3 separate regions of the Homo sapiens genome follow, and regions 1 and 2 are each linked to region 3. The links come from fine-mapping of genetic effects on gene expression. A gene starts in region 3. Each other region holds a variant in brackets. All regions are shown on one strand. Distances are between the middles of the regions.

Evidence for each region.
Region 1: its variant is fine-mapped to the expression of FGD2 in whole blood (TOPMed, PIP above 0.99). The same link has a PIP of 0.9 or more in lung.
Region 2: its variant is fine-mapped to the expression of FGD2 in monocytes (CEDAR, PIP 0.95). The same link has a PIP of 0.9 or more in B cells and monocytes after interferon gamma.

Annotation. Positions count from the first base shown.
Region 1 is chr6:37,024,779-37,032,287 of GRCh38, forward strand. FGD2 (FYVE, RhoGEF and PH domain containing 2) reads left to right here. Exons shown (of 16, transcript NM_173558.4): 14 at 1,014-1,160; 15 at 2,651-2,797; 16 at 3,170-4,291. The coding sequence ends at 3,385. Among named protein-coding and RNA genes, the nearest start is that of FGD2, 23 kb to the left of the region's middle. RefSeq lists enhancers at 1-931, 643-1,580, 4,865-4,944. The variant A/G (reference allele first, on the strand shown) is at 4,286.
Region 2 is chr6:37,040,050-37,047,558 of GRCh38, forward strand. It overlaps the pseudogene COX6A1P2. Among named protein-coding and RNA genes, the nearest start is that of FGD2, 38 kb to the left of the region's middle. The variant A/ATATT (reference allele first, on the strand shown) is at 4,496.
Region 3 is chr6:37,003,736-37,009,794 of GRCh38, forward strand. FGD2 (FYVE, RhoGEF and PH domain containing 2) reads left to right here and starts at 1,920. Exons shown (of 16, transcript NM_173558.4): 1 at 1,920-2,150; 2 at 5,099-5,330. The coding sequence starts at 2,083. RefSeq lists a silencer at 1,518-1,680 and enhancers at 1,936-2,065, 3,886-4,055.

The sequences.
Region 1 (7,509 bases), 22 kb after region 3:
GTGCCTGCTGAGCCAGTGAGTCATCCTTTCGGTGGTTCGGGTGCCAGTTTCTGTCTCCCCTGCCTGCCAGACGGGAATCCTTGTGAGGGTGGGGCAGGGCCAGGCCTTCTTCTCCAGGTCCCTGCCAGGCCACACTCTGTGCTGGGCACACAGAGGAGCTCCCTGAAGGCTGGTGCCGCCTGATGAACTACACTCCCTCTGCCCCTTTCTCCTGCCCTCCATCTCCACGCCCACATCTGGGCTCCCCATAAAGCCAAGTCTTCCTCGCAGTCACACCTTGCGGCACCCAGTGTTCCTCTCTGAGTCTTCCCAGGCCCCTTTTACCCAGCCTCCCGGCATGATCCATGTCAGCCTTTGGGGGGTGTCTTCGTGGTGAGCTGAGAGTGGGCCCCGCTCCACAGAGTACCCATGTAAAAACAACCAGCCTATCATTTTTAGGTGAAAACACACTTGACTCCATGATGGCGCAGAATACAAAGTCTGCCTGAATCTTAAAGCTAAACTGTGGGACTTGAAAGACACACCCTGTGTGTGGAGGGCCTGTCTGCCAGGTAACAGTGTGGCTCTCAGGGTCAGGAGAGGACAAAAGCTGGGCCCTGCTTGCCTGGTGGGGTCTTTGGGAGAGTCAGGTGAGATGGCGGAGAGGACAGCATTTGGAAAAGTGAATCAGATGCCAGTGGCCCGTCTGGGGCAAGCCCCTTGGGTTCACAGCAGCCCTCACTCGGAGGGAACCTGGAGGGGAGAGAAGTTACGGCCCTCGCGGTGGGGGCCGGGTCTTGAACCCTCAGCCTAAGAGCCCCGAGCCCGAGCTCCCCCATGTGTCGCAGCCTCCAGGCAGTTGGGCCTCACCAGCATGGGGGAGCATCCCCGCTCTGCCTCTATTCCTCCCTCGAAGCTTTCTTTTCCTCCCCCAGTCCCTGGTTGCTCTCATGCCCCCACCTGCCCACCAAGGCAGGAGCCCAGCCCTCCGGTGCCTGGTCTCAGCCCCATGCCCCCTTATGTGTCCTCCTCAGGTGGTGTGTGCCAGGTGCTCCGACTACCGGGCCGAACTGAAATACGACGACAACAGGCCCAACCGAGTCTGCCTCCACTGCTACGCATTCCTCACTGGAAATGTGCTGCCTGAGGCCAAGGAGGACAAGAGGCGGGGCATCCTGGAGGTGAGGGCCACTGTCCCCGCGCTCACCATCCGTCCTCTGTTCAGGGAATGTGTGCCCGGCAACCATGCTGGGCTGACACTGTCCAGTGCTGAGGAACAAGCCAGCCATGGTCACACCCTCCCCCCTCTCCCTCTTCCTCTCTCTGCCCACAGACCCCAGGCCTCTCGCCACAGCCCAGGCAGTGTGGAGCCTGTCACCAAATGGAGGCACCCTTTGGCTGCAGGCTGTCGTCCACATTCTTCTGCACTTCCTCTATGTCCCCATCCGATAGTACGGCCCCTCTGGACAGCTCATGTTCACGTCCCCATGTCCTGCCCCGACAGTCCCAGGGTGCCAAGAGCTGGTGTCACCGCTTCCATTTTACAGATGGGAACACTGACGCTCCAGGTCAGACAGATTGGAGACTCCATTCTAACTGGAAGGGACTCCAGGGGCCAGTCGGTCTTATCCCATGGAGACCCAGGGCTGGAGGAGTGACTTGCCCAAGATCACACAGCAAGTTAGGAGCCAGCTCTCTGATCTCAGTCACAGATGTTCTTTCTGTTGCCCTGGGGGCCTCACTGAGCCACACTTGCCCCCACAGGTGCTCCCCTGTGGGGGTACAACTGTGCTCAGCTAGGCAGCACAAATACAATGTCAACCAGCTCAGCATCAATACCACTGTCCACTGCCCCTCCCTCACGAAGGCCAGGTTGACATCCCACCGTCCCTGGGAGGTGGGAGAAGGTCCCAGCCTGTGCCAGCTGAGATTCACTCCCAGGTTCAAGTTGGCCTCTTTTGGCCAGGCGGGAAGGCTCATGCCTGTAATCCCAGCACTTTGGGAGGCCAAGGTGGATGGATCACGTGCGGTCAGGAGTTCGAGACCAGCCTGGCCCACATGGTGAAGTCCCGTCTCTACTAAAAATACAAAAAAAAAAAAATCAGCCGGGCATGGTGGTGCATGCCTGTAATCCCAGCTACTCGGGATGCTGAGGCAGGAGAATCTCTTGAACCCGGGAGGTGGAGGTTGCAATGTGTTGAGATTGCACCATTGCACTCCAGCCTGAGCAACAAGAGAGAAACTATCTGAAAAAAAAAAAAAAGTTGGCCTTTTTCCACGGGCATCCACCCCGTTTCCAATCCTCCCCATCCTTCCAGGCCCAGGACCCCCTGACCACTAGGCAACACAGCCTGCCCCTGGAGATGCTCAGCCCCTTCTCAGGGCCCAATTCTGTTTCCTGGAGCAGCTCCAGGCACCCTCCCGGCACCTGCCCCTTGTGGGCACACACGCGACAGGTTCAGGCAGGCTGGGGTTTGACTGCAGCTCTGCCACTGGCCAGCTAGCTGTGTGACCACAGGCACTTGATGGGACCTCTCTGAGCCTCAAGGACCAAGGACCCCTCCATTCAGTACTGCTGTAAGGATTGGAGATAGTGATTGTCAAGCCCCCAGACCAACATCTGGCACTTGCGGCTGCTCTGCTCCCTGACAGTCCCTCCTTCTGGTTTTAGAAAGGGTCCTCAGCCACGCCTGACCAGAGCCTGATGTGCAGCTTCCTGCAGCTCATCGGGGACAAGTGGGGCAAGAGCGGCCCCCGGGGCTGGTGTGTGATCCCTCGGGATGACCCCCTCGTGCTCTATGTCTATGCTGCCCCTCAGGTAAGGCCACCACCTGCCCGCCCCCCGTCAGGCCCTGGCCTTCCCACAGCGTGTGTGTGAAGGGGGTCAGGGGTGAGTATTGCTAGCTCCATATGTCAGATAGGGAAACTGAGGCCCAATGAGGATATGGTATCCTGGAGTCTCAAGGTTGGTAGGTTTCAGAATTGTGCCCTGACTCTAGGTCACCACTGCTTTGCCCTCAGAGGCAGCCAGTTCTTCTGTCCTCTTCCTCGATGGCCTTCACCAGCCCACCCCCAACCCATGGGGGTTTAGGGTGTGAGCTGTGCGTGCGTGGCTGTTGCCTTCACGATGGCTATCTGGGGCAGTAGGACTGAGAGGGGACAGTGGCCCACTGCTCTCTCCTCCCCCCAGGACATGAGGGCTCACACCTCCATCCCCCTGCTGGGCTACCAGGTGACTGTTGGGCCCCAGGGGGACCCTCGGGTCTTCCAGCTACAGCAGTCAGGCCAGCTCTACACCTTCAAGGCCGAGACGGAGGAGCTGAAGGGCCGCTGGGTGAAGGCCATGGAGCGGGCGGCCAGTGGCTGGAGCCCCAGCTGGCCCAACGATGGGGACCTGTCCGACTGAGCCACTGCCAGCCGCTCTCCTGCCCACCTCTCCCCACCCTGAACCCAGCTCCTGCCACAGACTGACCCTGTGGCCTCAGTGACCCACTGCCCCAAGTGGTGCTTTCAGAGAATTGATTCAGCCATCTGCGCCCAGGCCACGTGTCCCGATCTGGGATTAGAAAATATGGGTCCATTCCTTTCTAGAAAGGGGACAACCAAGTGTCTCAGTTTGCCTTGCGGGGAGGGGGCTCCTGGGCCATGGGACTTCCAGTGCTAAAACTGGGAAAGCCCCAGGTAACCCCGGACTGGTGGTCACCATAGTATGGTTTTTCATTTGTATCTCCTGGGGAGCTTTTAAAGAGTACTGGTGAAAAACACATAGTAAATTAATTTTAAAAATGTAAAAAACAATGCCTGTACTGAAGTACCACCACCGATTTAAATGGGCTGAGTTGGGGGAGGCATGGGGTCTTTTTTTTTTTTTTTTTGAGACAGAGTCTTACTCTGTTTCCCAGGCTGGAGTGCACAAACATGGCTCACTACAGCCTCGCTCTCCCGGGCTCCAGTGATCCTCCCGCCTCAGCCTCCCAAGTAGCTGGGATTATAGGTGTGTGCCACTGTGCCAAGCTAATTTTTTTATTTTTTGTAGAGATGGGATTTCACCATGTTACTCAGGCTGGTCTCAAACTCCCAGCCTCAAGCGATGCTCCCACCTCCACCTCCCAAAGTGCTGGGATTACAGGCGTGAGCCACCATACCTGGCGCATGCATATTTTTTAAGAGTACCCACTGGAGTCTAATATATAGCCTGGGTTACCTGGGATGAAGAATAAAGAGAGCAAACTACCACAACCAATGGTTGAGCCCCTGTCAAGTGCCAGTCATGATAGTAGTAATAATAATAATAAACATCTATTGG[A/G]CCAGGCTCTGTGCAAGGTGTTTTATGTGGATTATGTCATTTTACCATCCAGAGTTATCCCCATTTCCAGATGAAGACACCGACTCAGAGAGGTTTAGTAATTGGCTCAATTGGTCATGTAGCTCGTAGATGCCAGAGCCAGGTTTTAACCCGGTGAACTAAGGTCAAAGCTCTTTCTATCATGGAGCAGAACAATAAGACAAGCAGAGAGGGGAGGAGAGTGAGGAGAAGCAAAAGAGAGGGAAAGAGAGTGAAGAAGCTGGGAAGACAAGAGAGAAAGGTGAATGGTGGGAGGAAGGGTGACGGGAGGAGCATCCCTGTCCCCTCATCCCCACCTCGCTGGTGGGTGAGGATGCTTTTTCATAAGAGACCACCAGGGGGTGGCAGTGGTCAGCAGGCCACATGCAGTGGCCCCAGCAGTGGCCAGAACACCCTCAGCTGCTCTCAGCAGGTCCAGCCATTGCTGGGCTCTGCCCTGAAAGGAGGAAGCATGGATGAGTCACAGGTTTTTGTCCCATCACAGGCCCAGCAGCTTTGCCTGCCTCCAACCTGAGGCCACTTCCCTCCTGTAGGGTGTTTGTTTGTTTATTTGAGACAGGGTTTTGCTCTGTCATCCAGGCTGGAGTGCAGTGGTGTGATCAGAGCCCACTGGAACCTTGACCTTCTGGGTTTAAGCTATCCTCCTTCCTCAGCCTCCTGAGTATCTAGAAGCACAGGTGCACGCCACCACATCCAGCTAATTTTTAAAATTTTTGTAGAGATGGGGTCTCACTATATTGCCCAGACTGACCTCAAACTCCTGAGCTCAAGCAATCCTCCTGCCTTGGCCTCCTAAAGTGTTGGCATTATAGGCATGAGCCACCATGCCCGGACAGCATCAGCATTTTATTTATTTTTTATTTTTATTTTTATTTTTGAGATGGAGTCTGTCACTCTGTCACCCAGGCTGGAGTGCAGTGACGCCATCTTGGCTCACTGCAACCTCTGCCTCCCAGGTTCAAGTGATTCTCCTACCTCAACCTTCCAAGTAGCTGGGATTACAGGCGTGCGCCACCATGCCCGGCTAATTTTTGTATTTTTAGTAGAGACGGGGTTTCACCATATTGGCCAGGCTGGTCTCAAACTCCTGAACTCCGGTGATCCACCCATCTCAGCCTCCCAAAGTACTGGGATTACAGGCATGAGCCACTGCACCTGGCCTGCATCAGCATTTTAAAACTCGCCAATGATGCTGAAGGCAGCTGGCTCGGTGACAGCAGAGTCGATTCTGCAGCACTGATACCTAAGCTTTTCCAGGGGTTTAATCTGAGTGGGAGTATGGAGAGTGGCTTCACTGTGGAGCAAAATGAGGTAGCCGTCAGGAGAGGGAAGCGAGGGCACACAACCTTTGTGCTGTCATTGTTAGGTTTACTGAGGTGTAATTTACAGACTGTAAAATCCACCCTTATTAGTATATTTTCTAAGTTTTGGCAGAAGAGTACAGTCATACAGCTACCACCACAATCCCCCTATAAGTGTCCCCATGCCACCCTTTGTAGTCAACCCACACCCCTACTCCTTGCCTCTGGTAACCATTGATCTGTTTCTGACTGATAATTTTGCCTTTTCCAGATGTCATTTAAATGGAACCATAGCTTTTTAAGCCTGGCTTCCTTTACTCAGCATTATATATTTGAGATTCATCCATTTTGTTCTCCATGTCAGTAGTTCATTCCTTTTTCATTGCTGAGTAGTATTCCATTGCATGGGCATACCACAGTTGTTCATCTGTTTACCAGGTTAAGTATACTTGGGTTATTTCCAGTTTGGGGCAATTATGAATAATACTCCTATGAACTATAAACGTTCATGTTCAGTGTTTGTGTGAGCACGTTTTCTTTTCTCTTAGGTAAATACCTAAAATTGGGTCACTGAGTAAGTGTCTAACTTTATCAGAAACTACCAAGCTGTTTTCCATATTGGTTGTACCATTCTGCATTCCTACCAGCAATGTATGACATTTCCCCTGCTCATGCATTTGGTATAGTCAGGTTTGAAGTTTGTTTTTTTAAAATTAATAATTTTAGACATTCTGGTGAATGTATAGGGCTCATGACCTTTTAAATGTTTATGATACAAAGAAATGCATACAGGCTCACATCTGTAATCCCAGCACTTTGGGAGGTCAAGGCAGGAGGATCGCTTGAGCCCAGGAGTTTGAGTCTGTAATGAGCTATGATTGTACCACTGCACTCCAGCATGGGTGACAGACTGAGACCCTGTCTCAAAATGAAAAAAAAGTAGGTATTTTGCAAATGATTATTACCTACTATGTGTACCTAATACGTGCCAGGTAGTATACTACTTATACTACTTTTTCTTTTCTTTTTTTTTTTTTTTTGAGATGGAGTTTTGCTCTTGTTGTCCAGACTGAAGTGCAGTGGCACGATCTCCGCTCACTGCAACCTCTGCCTCCCAGGTTCAAGCGATTCTCCTGCCTCAGCCTCCCAAGTAGCTGACATTACAGGTATGCACCACCACGCCCAGCTAATTTTGTATTTTTAGTAGAGACGGGGTTTCACCATGTTGGCCAGGCTGGTCTCAAACTCCTGACCTCAGGTGACCCACCTGCCTTGGCCTCCCAAAGTGCTGGGATTACAGGTGTGAGCCACCACGCCTGGCAAGGTAATATGCTACTACTTTCCAAATCTCAGGGGCAGCTGATATCATGCAAAGGGCACCCCCTTGATAGCCTGAAAAGCTCAAATTCCAGTTCTGTTGAAGGCTTGACATAGGGTCTTGGGGATATCACCCAACCTCTTGAGCCTCCATGTATTCATTGTAACTTGACAAGCAGTGCCTCTTTGTAGGATTTGGTGTGAAAACCAAGTGAGATAATTCAGGGAAAGCTCCTAGCCCACAGACGGAGCTCGCTGGCTGGGAGTTGTTACTAGCTATGCTCTTCATGGACGTTTCTGCTTTCCTGGGACCATTTGTTCTGGCCGCAAGCCTGGTTGCTTCTACCTTCAGGATATACTGCGAACAGAGCCCGTCCTCACACCTCATACCCCTCACATGCTGTCACTTGGCCCGGCCACTGTGATATCTCTGGGGGTGATTGCTAGAGCTTCCCACCTGCCCTTCCTGCTCCCACACTTGTCCTCTGGCATCTTCACACAGATTCTTTCAAATCTGAAAGCTGAGCTAGTTTTCAGCTCCCAGCCCTCCAGTAGCATGGGGTTAGA
Region 2 (7,509 bases), 37 kb after region 3:
ACCACAGGAAGAGAGAGGCCCAGGCACCCCAGCCAGTCTAGACCACCTAACCCAGCGAAGCCATTAGCAGACTGTTGCTGTGTGAATGAAAACAGCAGAGGAACCATCTAGCCAACCCACAGAATTGCAAGAATAATAAACAGCTGTTCTAAGTCACTAAGTTTAGGGATGGTTTGTTACACAGCATTACATAACTGATACATCCATCTACACTATCAGCGTACCACTCAGGTCAACAAAGGGTATCTCATGTTGTGCAAACTCAGAATTGAGACCCAAATTGTAAGCATTTTATGTGTTAATAATTATATTCTCCAGAACCCTTTCACATGTTCCTTTTATTTTTCTGAGGCAGGGTCTTGCTCTGCAGCCCAGGCTGGAGTATACTGGCATGATCGTGGCTCACTGAAGCCTTAACCCTCTGGGATCAAGTAATCCTTCCACCTCAGTCTCCTGAGTAGCTGGGACCACAGAAACATGCCACCATGCGTGGGTAATTTTTGTTTGTTTGTTTGTTTTGAGATGGAGTCTCTCTCTTTCGCCCAGGCTGGAGTGCAGTGGCACAATCTCGGCTCACTGAAAGCTCCGCCTCCCGGGTTCACGTCTTTCTCCTGCCTCAACCTCCCGAGTAGCTGGGACTACAGGCGCCCGCCACTGCGCCTGGCTAATTTTTTTTTTGTTTGTATTTTTTTAGTAGAGACGGGGTTTCACTGTGTTAGCCAGGATGGTCTCGATCTCCTTATCTAGTGATCCACTTGCCTCGGCCTCCCAAAGTGCTGGGATTACAGGCGTGAGCCACCACGCCCGGCCATGACTGGCTAATTTTTTAAATTTTTTGTAGAGATGGGATTGCACCATGTTGCCCAGGCTGTTCTCAAATTCCTGGGCTCAAGCAATCCGCCTGCCTCGGCCTTGAAAAGTGCTAGGATTACAGGCATGAGCCACCACGCTCAGCTCCACAGGTTCTATCTAATTTGTCATGACAACCCATTGAGAAAGAGGAAAAGGAAATGTGGTATCTCTCCATTAAACAGATAAGAAAACTGAGGCTCAGAGAGATATGTGGCTGTCCCAAGATTACTCAGCAAATCAGTAAAGGTGCTGTTATAGACTGAACTGTGTCCCCCCAAAACTTATATGATGAAGCCCTAGTCCCCAGTGTGATTATATTTGGAGATAGGACCTTTAAAGAGGTAATTAAGATTAAAGGAGGTCATAAGGGCCTTAATCCAACATGACTGGTATCATAAGTAAAAGAAGAGACAGGCCGCGTATGGTGGCTCACGCCTGTAATCCCAGCAATTTGGGAGGCTAAGGCGGGAGGATTGCCTGAGGTCAGGAGTTTGTGACCAGACTGGCCAACATGGTGAAACCCTGTCTTTACTAAAAATACAAAAATTAGCTGGGCGTGGTTGTGGGCGCCTGTAATCCCAGCTACTCAGGAGGCTGAGGCAGGAGAATCACTTGAACCCAGGAAGTGGAGGTTGCAGTGAGCTGAGATCGTGCCACTGCACTCCAGCCTGGGCAACAAGAGTGAAACTCTGTCTTAAAAAAAGAAAAAAAAAGAAAAAGAAGAGACATCAGGGATGCGTGTGCAGAGGAAAGGCAGCAGTGAGAAGGCGGCCGTCTGCAAGTCAAGGAAAGAGGCCTCAGGAGAAAAAAACCTGTGATACTTTGATCTTAGACTTGCAGCCTCCAGAACTATGAGACAATAAATTTCTGTTGTTTAAGCGACCCAGTTTGTGGTATTTTCTTATGGCAGAAACTAATATAGCAACTAAACTAGCAAACTAATATAGATACCGCTACTCAAATTTAGCTCTTATGCTTTCTTAGAAGGAATTTTCTTAAAACAATGACATACCATTTCTTGCATATCAAATTGGCAGAGATTTTTAATTAAAAGATAAACTTAGTGCTAGTAAAGATACAGAGAAATTGACTTTCTCAATCACCAGGGGTTGGAATCTAAATTAGTACAACTTTCTAAAGGAGATTTGGCAATACATATAGAAAGTCTTTAAAATCTACTTACTAACATATGGTAATAGCAAAATATTGGAAATAACCTATGGCAGACTGTATTTTCTAAAGATGGAAGCACTGATATATCCCATTTCCCATGCTCTTCTTATAATGCGATGTTAGCATCCTCCTTTGAGAGGTAGGGTCAATTCCCTCTGCTTGAACCTGGGCAAACCTTTGTAGTTGCCATAACCAATAGAATGTAGTGGAAGCAAAGGTGTGTGGCTTCCAAGGCTCGGTTATAAAAGGCATCACAGCTTCTGCCTCAGCTTCCTGGACAGCTTCCAGAGGACACTCGAGCAGCTCTGTGGAGAGATCCATGTAGAGAGGAACTGAGGCCCCCACCTACAGCCAGCACCAGCTTTCCAGCTGTATGAGTGAGTAACTCTAGACATAGATTTTCTTGAGCCCAGTATGGTGGCTCATGCCTGTAATCCCAGCACTTTGAGAGGCCAAGGTAGGGGATTGCTTGAGCCCAGGAGTTTGAAACCAGCCTGAGAAAAACAGTGAGACTCCTATTGCTACAAAAAATTGAAAAATTAGCTAGGCCTGGTGGCACACACCTGTGGTCCCAGCTACTCAGGAGGCTGAGGTGGGAGGATCGCTTGAGCCCAGTTCGAGACTAGCCTGAGCAACATACTAAGACCTCATCTCCAAAAACAGTAATAATAAATTTTTTTAGAAAGAAAGAAGTAGATCTTCTAGTCCCAGTTGAGCCTTCAGATACCTTCAGCCTCAATTTGCATCTGACTACAGCCACATGAAAGACCCCAAGTGAGCACTGCCCAGATGAATCCTTCTCAAATTTCTTACCAGCAAAAAACTGTATGAGAAAATAATTTTTTATTGTTTTTCTAAGCCACTGAACTTCTGGATAATATGTTATACAGTCATATATAACTAATATGTAACCATCAATAAGGGACTACGTCTATCCAACAGGGGACTACTTAAATATATTATGGTAAATGCATATAATAAAATATTATGTAGTACTGACTTGGAAAACTCTACAAGATAATTTCTTAAGTGAAAAAATGCAAAGTGCAGAATAGTATAGAGGATACTGCTGTCTTAGTTCATTTTGTGTTGCTATAACAGAATACCACAGACTGGGTAATTTATAAAGAAAATACATGTATTTGGCTCATAGTTCTGGAGGCTGGGAAATCCAAGAGCATGATGGTGGCATCTGGTGACAGCCTTTGTGCTGCATCATCCCATGGCAGAAAGTGGAAGGGCAAGAGAGGGCAAGAGCAAGAGAGCAAAAGGGGGCCAGACTCACTTTTTTTCTTTCTTTTTTGGGACAGAGTCTCGCTTTGTCACCCAGGCTGGAGTGCAGTGGTGCGATCTCAGCTCACTGCAACCTCCACCTCCCGGGTTCTAGCAATTCTCCTGCCTCAGCCTCCTGAGTAGCTGGGATTACAGGCACGTGCCACCACGCCCGGCTAATTTTTTTTTTGTATTTTTAGTAGAGATGGGGTTTCGCTGTGTTAGCCAGGATGGTCTTGATCTCCTGACCTCGTGATCCGCCCACCTCGGCCTCCCAAAGTGCTGGGATTACAGGCATGATCCACTGCGCCCGGCCCCAGACTCACTTTTATAATATGCCCATTCTTAAAATAACTAACCCATTCCCACAGTAATTGCATTATCCTGGCTCTGCCCTCATGACCTAATCACCTCTCATTAGGCCTTGCTTCCCAACACTGTTGCATTGGAGATTGAGTTTCCAACACATGAACTTTGGTGGACACATTCAAACCATAGCAACTACCATTTGTGGAAAAAAAAAAAAAAATAGCTAGGCACAGTGGCTTATGCCTGTAATCCCAGCATTTGGGGAGGCTGAAGCAGGAGGATCACTTGAGGCCAAGAGTTCGAAATCAGCCTGGGAAACATAGCAAGACCTCATCTCTATGAAAAAGACAAAAATTAACTGGATGTTGTGGCATGTGTGCCTGTAGTCACAGCTGCTGGGGAGGCTGAGGCAGGAGAATCACTGGACCCCAGGAGTTCAAGGTTGCAGTGAGCTATGATAACATCACTGCACTCCAGCCTGGGCAACATAGAGAGACCTCGTTTCTAATAAAAATTAAAACAAAACAAAACAAACAAAGCAGCCTGTCATAGTGGCACATGCCTATAGTCCCAGCTACTTGGGAGACTGAGGCAGGGGGATCACTGAAGCCCAGGAGTTTGAATTGCAGTGAGCTACAATTGCACCACTGCACTCCAGCCTGGGCGACAGAACAAGACCCTGTCTCTGAATATATATATATATAATATATATATATTTATATATTTTTTATGTATATATATTATATATATATTTATATATTTTTATGTATATATATTATATATATTTATATATTTTTATGTATATATATTATATATATTTATATATTTTTATGTATATATTATATATATTTATATATATTTTATGTATATATATTATATATATTTATAT[A/ATATT]TTATGTATATATATTATATATATTTTATATATTTTATGTATATATATTATATATATTTATATATATTTTATGTATATATATTATATATTTATATATTTTATATATGTATATTTTATATATATTTATATATTATATATATTTATATATTTTATATATATACACACACATAGAGATATATGTACATATGCATAGAGATAATACACATATATTTTGTAATGTGTATATATACACCATATATATTATCTATTCAAAAGTAAATAAAGTTGAACATTTTAAAATAATGCTTTGCGGCGCTGCGGCAGTCCAGATCAAAAATGGCGGCAGTTGGTGTGTTCTCGGTTTCTCGGCTGCTGGGTCGGTCCCGCCCACAGCTGGGGCGGCCTATGTCGAGTGGCGCCCATGGAGAAGAGGGCTCAGCTCGCATGTGGAAGACCCTCACCTTCTTCGTCGCGCTCCCCGGGGTGGCAGTCAGCATGCTGAATGTGTACCTGAAGTCGCACCACGGAGAGCACGAGAGACCCGAGTTCATCGCCTACCCCCATCTCCGCATCAGGACCAAGCCGTTTCCCTGGGGAGATGGTAACCATACTCTATTCCATAACCCTCATGTGAATCCACTTCCAACTGGCTACGAAGATGAATAAAGAGAATCTGGACCACTACCCGGGCACCAGGGACCACAGCACTGGTTTGGACCATTACTCTGCACATGGACCAGAAAAAGTATATGGGACCTTAAGCTCACCTTCTTTACTTGTATCAAATGATGACTGGTATACTGGTCTCCCATCCCTTTGCTTGTGGCGGGAGATGGCTTAAATAAATAACTTAAACTTAAAAAAATAAAATAAAATAATGCTTTGTCTTTAACTCAGAAGTTTCGCTTCTACGAATTTATCCTTAGTAAATGATCATGGCAAAGATTTAGCTTAAAGGATGTTATCACAGCTTCATTTGATATTGTGAAAAAGGTAAAACAACCCAATTATTCAACAATAGGAAATTTGTTGAATAGCTTATGCCATTCTCGTACTCGGCCACCGTCTTTAATGGCCTCTTAGAAAACGATCCCATGCCCTGGGAAGTGATCATGATATACTAATTGATAAGAAGTTATGACATGGCACCGTGTAATCTTATCTTTCAAGTCAATTGAATTATATAAGTGTAGATTGAGATGTAGATTAAAACACAGGGAGAGATGAAGATAGATACAGAAACCAAAATGTTAACACTGATCTCTGGGAGGTCCAATTACTGTTGATTTTGTTTTCTTCTCTTTCACCTGTGTTTTTCAACAATAAATGTGCTACTTTGTAAAAACACAAATGCTACAAATTTGTCTCCTTTTTTTGTGAAGGATTCCTAGATGATTCTATAAATAGCAGCTCCAGATACAGAATTTGAAACTTTGTTTTTAAAGAGAACAGAGTTTTCAAAGTCAAAGATTACCAGACATACATCGTTGGTTAGAGAGAGCTGCCAGGCCTGTTCTAAGAAGTCCTATCATGTTGGTGACAACACTGACCCCCTCCCAGTCCAGCTGGCCAGTGGTGGCCATGTCCAGAGGGGACATCCTGAGTGCAGGCTGTGTCCCTAAACTACCTCTAATCAAAACTAGTAGGCATGGGAGGCGCCAGAATTTGCATAGGATGATCTTGGGACCAGTATACAATCTGCACTTCCAAAGCCAGCCCACTGTTTGTACTTACATCATAGCTTAAAAAGTGGGCTGGGGCCAGCTGGGTGCAGTGGCTCACACCTGTCATCTCAGCACTTTGGAAGGCTGAGGCAGGAGGATCACTTGAGGGTAGGAGGATTACTTGAGGTTAGGAATTCGAGATCAGCCTGGGCAATATAGTGAGACCCCCTCTCTAAAACATTCTTTTTAAGCTAGCCAGGTGTGGTGGCTTGTGCCTGTACTCTCAACTACTGTGGAGGCTGAGGTGGGAGGATGGTTTGAGCCCAGGAGTTTGAGGCTGCAGTGAGCTATGATGGTGCCACTGCACTGCAGCCTGGACAACACAGCAAGACCCCATCTCAAAAAAAAAATCATAAGTGTTACAAGTTTAATTCTATGTCCCCAAAACTCCTATATTGAAGTCCTAACCCCAAGTACCTCAGAATGTGATTGCATTTAAAGACAGGATGTTTAAAAAGGTAATTCAGGTAAAATAAGGTCATGAGGATGGGCCCTGATCCAATCAGAAGAGGAAATGAGGAGAGACATGTGCAGAGGAAAGACCATGTGAAGAGAAAGAGAGAAGACGGCTCCCGGCCAAAAAGAGAGGCTTCAGAAACCTGCCCTGATGACACTGTGCTCCTGGACTTCCAGCTTTCAGAACTGTGAGAAAATAAACTTCTGTGTTTAAACCACCCAGTCTATGATACTTTGTTATGAAGACGTCATGTTTACTAAAGACATTTTTTTTTTTGAAACGGAGTCTCGCTCTTTTACCCAGGGTGGAGTGCAGTGGCGCGATCTCGGCTCACTGCAACCTCCATCTCCCAGGTTCAAGCAATTTTCCTGCCTCAGCCTCCTGAGTAGCTGGGATTCACTTCGCTTCCACGTCCAGCTAATTTTTTGTATTTTAGTAGAGACAAGGTTTCACCATGTTGCCCAGGCTGGTTTCGAACTCCTGAGCTCAGGCAATCCGCGCACCTTGGCCTCCCAAAGTGCTAGGATTACGGGTGTGAGCCACCATGCCTGGCCCTGAAGACACTTTTTAATGTATACTTCATATAAGACTGAGAAAATGTCCATTGTCCAAAACAAAGACATTTTCTAGTGGTGCCTCTGAGGTATAGAGCTGATGGCAGTTATGGGGACTTTGGGCACCTCCAGCCCCCAGGCACCTCCACTGCAGGCTGCAGGTTTGCACCCTGGCCTTCCCAGCAGGCAGAAGCAATCCCACCATCCCACGAGCCTGGAGAGCCCGGGTCTCAGCTCCTGGTGGGTCCTCAGGTCCCCGTGCAGAGCTGCAGCCTGGCTCTGAGGCTCTGTCTGGTCTCA
Region 3 (6,059 bases):
GAGGCAGGAGAATCGCTTGAACCCAGTGGGGTGAAGATTGCAGTGATCCGAGATTGCAGCACTGCACTCCAGCCTGGGTGACAGAGTAAGACTCAGTCTCAAAAAAAAAAAAAAAGAGAGAGAGAGTTCTCATCTTCTAGATACACACTAAAATGTTTATGGGTAATGTCATCTGACATCTGGGATTTTCTTCAAAATGACATGAGAAGGCAGAGTCGATGTGGCTGCAGCAGGGACAGGGGACTGGCTGTGAGCTGAGGTTTGTTATGGTCTGGATTAGGGGTTCATGGGATGCATTATATGATTCTGTCTAGTTTTGCATATGTTCTAAATTCTCCATAATAAAAAGTAAAAAACAAAAATGGAGGTTTGTGAGACTTAGGGTTTGGGGCAGGGGGCCCGGCATCTGGTGGGAGAAACCACTCAGACGAGGCTTGGGGTGAGGGCGGCTGTTGGGCATGTGAGGCCCCAGGGGTTCACAGTTACTGGAGCGTGAAGCTGTTCCAGGCACTTCACGTACCAAGAGCACCGAGGCTCAGGCCCTGCACTCCAGGACACAGACCAGGTTCAGTGGAGAGCCCTGGTGGGACCAGAGCCCAGTGGGAGGGCCCTGAACGGCCTGTGGGGCTTGAAGGAGGGGAACAGAGGCAGCGTCCATTTGTTCTGTAAGGGCCGGGAGACCAGGTGGTAAAGGAGGCCTCAGGCAAAGACAACCCAGTGTCCTGGGATCAGGGAGGCCTGGGGATGGAGCAGCAAGAACATGGTCATCCAGGCTCCCAACGAACCTTTGCTGGAACTGTAGGACACCCACTTTTGCTTTGGAAATCCAACTTCTCTTGTATTCTTCCTGGGTGACCTTGGGCAAGTTACTTAACCTCTCTGATTCTGTTTCTTCCTATGTAAAGTGGGGATAGGAATAGTACCTACCTCATGAGGTTGTTATAGGATTAATAAGAAAATACTCATAAGCATGAAAAAGAGTGCATGTTAGCTATTATTATCCTCTGAGTTTCAGGGAGGAAACTGCCCTCCCTTGGGGCAATGAGGTGATGACAGCAACAACTAAAATGAGAGAACCCCAGTGGGGAGGTGGGAACATCACAGTACTCCCTGCCACCCTTACCAGGTTTGTGATTATTTTAAATAAAACATGCTGTTTCCTGGCCAGGCACAGTGGCTCACATCTGTAATCCCAGAATTTTGGGAGGCCGAGGCAGGAGGATCACCTGAGGCCAGGAGTTCAAGACCAGCCTGAGCAACATGGTGAAACCCCATCTCTACTAAAAATACAAATAATTAGCAGGGCGTGGTGGCAGGCCCTGTAATCCCGGCTACTCAGGAGGCTGAGGCAGGAGAATCGCTTGAACCGGGAGGCAGAGGGTGCAGTGAGCCGAGATCCCACCACCGCACTCTGTCTCTAAAGAATAAAAAAGACATTATTTCCTTACAGCTGTGAGCAGGGGCAGATGCAGAAAAGAAGGTGCTGGGAAAGAGGCCAAGTAAAAGCCACTGGACCTTCTGAAGGAGAAAGTGTGGTTGGCTGGAACCACTAGGCCAAGAAACCAGCCAAGGGTCTGGCTCCGGGTGGCCTTTTTTTTTTTTTTTTTTTTTAAGAGACGGTGTCTCACTATGTTGCCCAGGTTGGTCTTGAACTCCTGGGCTCAAGCAATCCTCCTGCTTCGGCCTCCCAAAGCACTGGAATTAGAGGTGCAAACCACTGCACCAGCCCAGACTGGGCTCCAGAAGCTACCTCTGGGCCCTGTTGCCACCTCTTAGGTGGCTTCTGGAATGGGGGTCTACAGGTGTGAAAGGTCAGCCCCCCTGAGGGAGAGGTGGGGCCCGAGCAGGCTCCTCCCACTGCGGGAGTGCTGGCCTTTCCCCTGCAGGGCTGTGGCTCTGGGACCACTTCCTCTTTCTTCACTCTGAAGCCAAGAGCCGACCTTCTGAGCCCTCAAGAAAGATCAGAACAGATTCATGGGTGATTTAGCCTATCTGTCCCAGGCCAGCGTGGCTGAGTGTGCTGGCTGGAGGCCTCTCTCTCTGCTTCGAGGGTAGCTGAGATCCACCCCGGAAACCGGCAGGATGAAGGGGGCAAGTGAGGAGAAGCTGGCATCTGTGTCCAACCTGGTCACTGTGTTTGAGAATAGCAGGTATGGGCAGCTGGGGTGGGAGGGTCACCATGGTGGGCTGGCAGCCACCCTCCAGCCTTTCTGGCAGCTCTCTCCCTGGGCCCTGCCCCGGACCCTCCTCCTGCAGGGGCAGCCCCGCGTTCCTCGGTCACGGATTCCTTGGAGCATGGGAGAGTGTCGGTGGGACACCAGGAGCCAGGCAGGGGTGAGAGTGCCAGTGTGTGTTGGGAGAGTCCAGACAGGTGTGGTTACGAGCAAGCATGGGCAGACCAAAGCCTGTGTGTGGGCACAGGACCCCACCCAGTGCCTGCCAGCACCTCTCAGAAAAGGTAGCTGATACTCACCAAGAATTTACGCCCTATGATTAGGATAACCATATAATTTATCATTCAGCACACAATTGAAACTGAAAGTAAATGCCAAATAAAATGTGGTGGTTGTGGGGGAGGCATTACAGGTAAAGCTGGGACCGTATGAGGCAAACCAGGATGTACGGGCAGCATCCTGATGGGGTACTCCCTACTCTAAGTTCATGTCCTTACTTATTTAATTTAGTCATCGAACAGCCTAATAGGGGTAGATTCTGTTTCTGTTCCCGTCTTATAGATGAGGAAATGGAGACACAGAGAGGTGAGGATGCCAAGTGCTTTAAGTATCTGGGGCAATGCTGGGGCGTCTGTCTGGAGGGAAAAGGCTGGGCCAGATGCGTGGAGTCATTGGTAGCCCTGGGAGCATGTGTGTTTGTGTGTGTGCGCGTGTGTGTATGTGTGTGTTGTGTGTTATGTGTGGCATCAATCCATTCTGCAGGCATTTCTTAAGCTCAGGACTGTGTTAGGGGCTGTCCCAGGTAGGGTTTTCTGGAAATAGACTCAGACAGAGGTTTGCCTCAGGTGATTTATCAGGGAGAGCTTTTGGGAACAACAGCTGTGGGTGTGAGGGAAGCAGGGCCGGGCAGGGGGAGATGCTGAACTGCAGTGCACCTGCCACAGAGGCCTCAGCCTGTCCCAGGGAGCTCTGGAGCTGGGATGCCTCTCGGTTGTTCCAGCTGAGGAAGAGGGCTGGGTATTTGTATCTCCATGTGGACTGGACAAGAGACTCTGGGTGAGGCAGCTCTCTCTTCCAGAGAGTGATTCCCAGAGAGGGACTCAGCCAATAAATTACCCGGCAGCCCCCAGTACTACCAGTAGCTGGTGGGGATGGTGTGGGGAGGCCTCATTCCTGAAGGAGGGACATGGGTGGCACAGCACAGCATCCTACAGGAACTGTAGAGGATGAAGAAGGGTTTCAGTATTTGGATGCTGAGCTCATCGAATAACTATGATGCAAGGTCATAGACAGTAGATGTCCTAGGAATGGCCCGGATGCTGTATTGAGGGCACTCATGGCAGGCAATGTTTCCTGTAGGCTTCAGGGTGGAGATGGCATAGATGTAGACCTAGAAGTCTTCAACTTCCTGAGCTGGGTGATTCTCCCCTGCCTCTCCCGGGATCTTTGCCAAGCTCGTCCTGTTCAGCACCAAAGACAGCTCTTGGGTGCCGCCTTCCTGGCCCACCACCCCCTTGGGTGTGGGTGGATGGTACCACCTCACTCAACATGCTTGACGTGGACTAGGCACACCTGGGTGGAGCCCCTCAGCATGCTGTGCTCTGCCCAGGCAATAACCCTGGCAGGAGTGGGCAGCCCTTAGACGGGAGTTAGGTCCCAGCAGGCATCAAGAGGGTGAGAGCCACTCCTTACTGAGTGAGGGGACCCATACCAACTGCCTTGGCCTGGGCTTCCTTATGAGGTCTCCAGCACCTCAGCTGATCTGAAACTGAGGGGCAAAGAGGAAACAGAAGCTGGCCAGGGGCCCTAGAACAGAAATGCAGAACCTGAAACCAAATGTAGAACAGAAAGCCTGAGAACCAGCTACGCCCATGAGCTGCAGACCCATGGGCTGAGAAACCAGGGACTGGGGTGCCAGGGAGGGGTGGGAGAGCCTGGGAGTAGCCACACAGCACTAGGTCCCAATGCTTTCGCTGCCACAAACCCAATTGTGTCACTTGGGGCAAGTCACTTTGACTCCGCGGACCTGTTTCTCCTTTACTCAAATGGGGAGGGGCAGGTTAGAGTGAAGGCTCAGGAAGCAGTCGCCTGATTTGAATCCCACCTCTGCCACTTCCGAGCCGCATGTTACTCATCCTGTCCAGACCTCAGTTTCCTTGAGTGCAAAATATGGGTAATGAAAACCTTTCTCACGGAGTTTTGGAGATTTCGTATTTGTTTGGCCTTCCATTTCCTGGCCTGTCTTTCTCATAAGGATGCCTGCCCTGTTCTGTCATCACAAGCCCTTCCACACCAAGGGCAACGTTGGGTGTATTCATCAAGGGTGGGCCCTGTTGTCTAAGGAATTTGACTGGCTTGCAGAACCCAGTACACAGGGTAATAAAGGTGACCTACGAAGGCCCGTCCCTGGGAGAACAGAGCATCTGCTGCTGGGCTGGCTCTCCCTGCTTCTGGACGTGTGGAGGATGTCGATCCCATTGAGAAGCCCCAGCTTTTGCAGGCCTGCTCTCACTTTATATTGTTCTGTGGCTCCTACCTTCCCTTGATGTATAGGTTACTGATGTGGAAACTGAAAACAGAGGTGAGGTCCAAAGGTGAGGATAATCCAGGGGGTACCACTCAAAAACCCCTATATACAGAAAGGATTCCTGGACACTGTGGCTTCATTTTAAACAAGGAAGTATGCAGTTCCCCAGAAAATAAAATATAGTCCACCCTGACTCATTTTGAACACTGAGTTCCCTCCAAGAATGTGTTGGGAGAGAAGTGAAAGTCTTACTCAGCATGTTCCCAAAGAAAGCCAGGCACCCAGGGGCCCCTGCACTGGGGATTTGCACCAGGCAACCCAAATCCACACCAGGGACTTGCTGCTGTTTTCCCTGTTCTCCAGGGAGGAAGCCCTCAGGTCTGTCTCTTCTCCTCAGGACCCCAGAAGCAGCACCCAGAGGCCAGAGGCTAGAGGACGTGCATCACCGCCCTGAGTGCAGGCCTCCCGAGTCCCCAGGACCACGGGAGAAGACGAATGTCGGGGAGGCCGTGGGGTCTGAGCCCAGGACAGTCAGCAGGAGGTACCTGAACTCCCTGAAGAACAAGCTGTCCAGCGAAGCCTGGAGGAAATCTTGCCAGCCTGTGACCCTCTCAGGATCGGGGACGCAGGTGCCTGAGGGCTGAGGTAGAGGTGTGGGGTGCTGGGGTGGGGAGCTCTCCCTGACCTCCCCTCCACACATGCTTTCCTAGCCAGAGCCAGCAGTTCCCCAGGTGGGGGTATGGTGTGATCAGAGGTCAGCTGGGAGCTAGATTTCCCCATGCTTAATGGCCTTTGATTCACTAACTGCCTGCTACGCACCGTGCTGGATTACTTCGCGAGTCCCTCGTGTAGGAGTTTTTTGGACAAGGAAGTTGAAACACAGTTTTAAGGAACTTATTCAAGGCCACACAGCTTGGAACAGTCTCCATCTTGTGAACCTAATACTCTTCTCAGGTGGGGCCTCAGTTTACCCACTGGAGGAGACAACAATCTCAACCTAGAAATAGAGGTCTGAGTGTGAACTGTCCTGCCCTTAGACTAAAGCCCAGTCTGATCTCTTCTGTGGCTTGCAGTTTTCTCATCTGCAGAGTTCAAGGGTTGGCATGCAGATACTGTGCACCCAAATTCCCTGGAGTCACATCCCAGCACGTCTGCTTACTAACTGTGTGTCCTTGGGCAAGTCACTTGAGTCTCTTTGTGCCAGTTTCCTCATTTGTAAAATGGGGATAGTGGTTATAGTAATGCGTCCTGGTTTTCAATCGCTGCTGAACAAACCTATCAAAAATGTAGCGGCTGGCCGGGTGCAGTAACTCACGCCTGTAATCCCAGCACTTTGGGAGGCCGAGGTGGGCAGATCA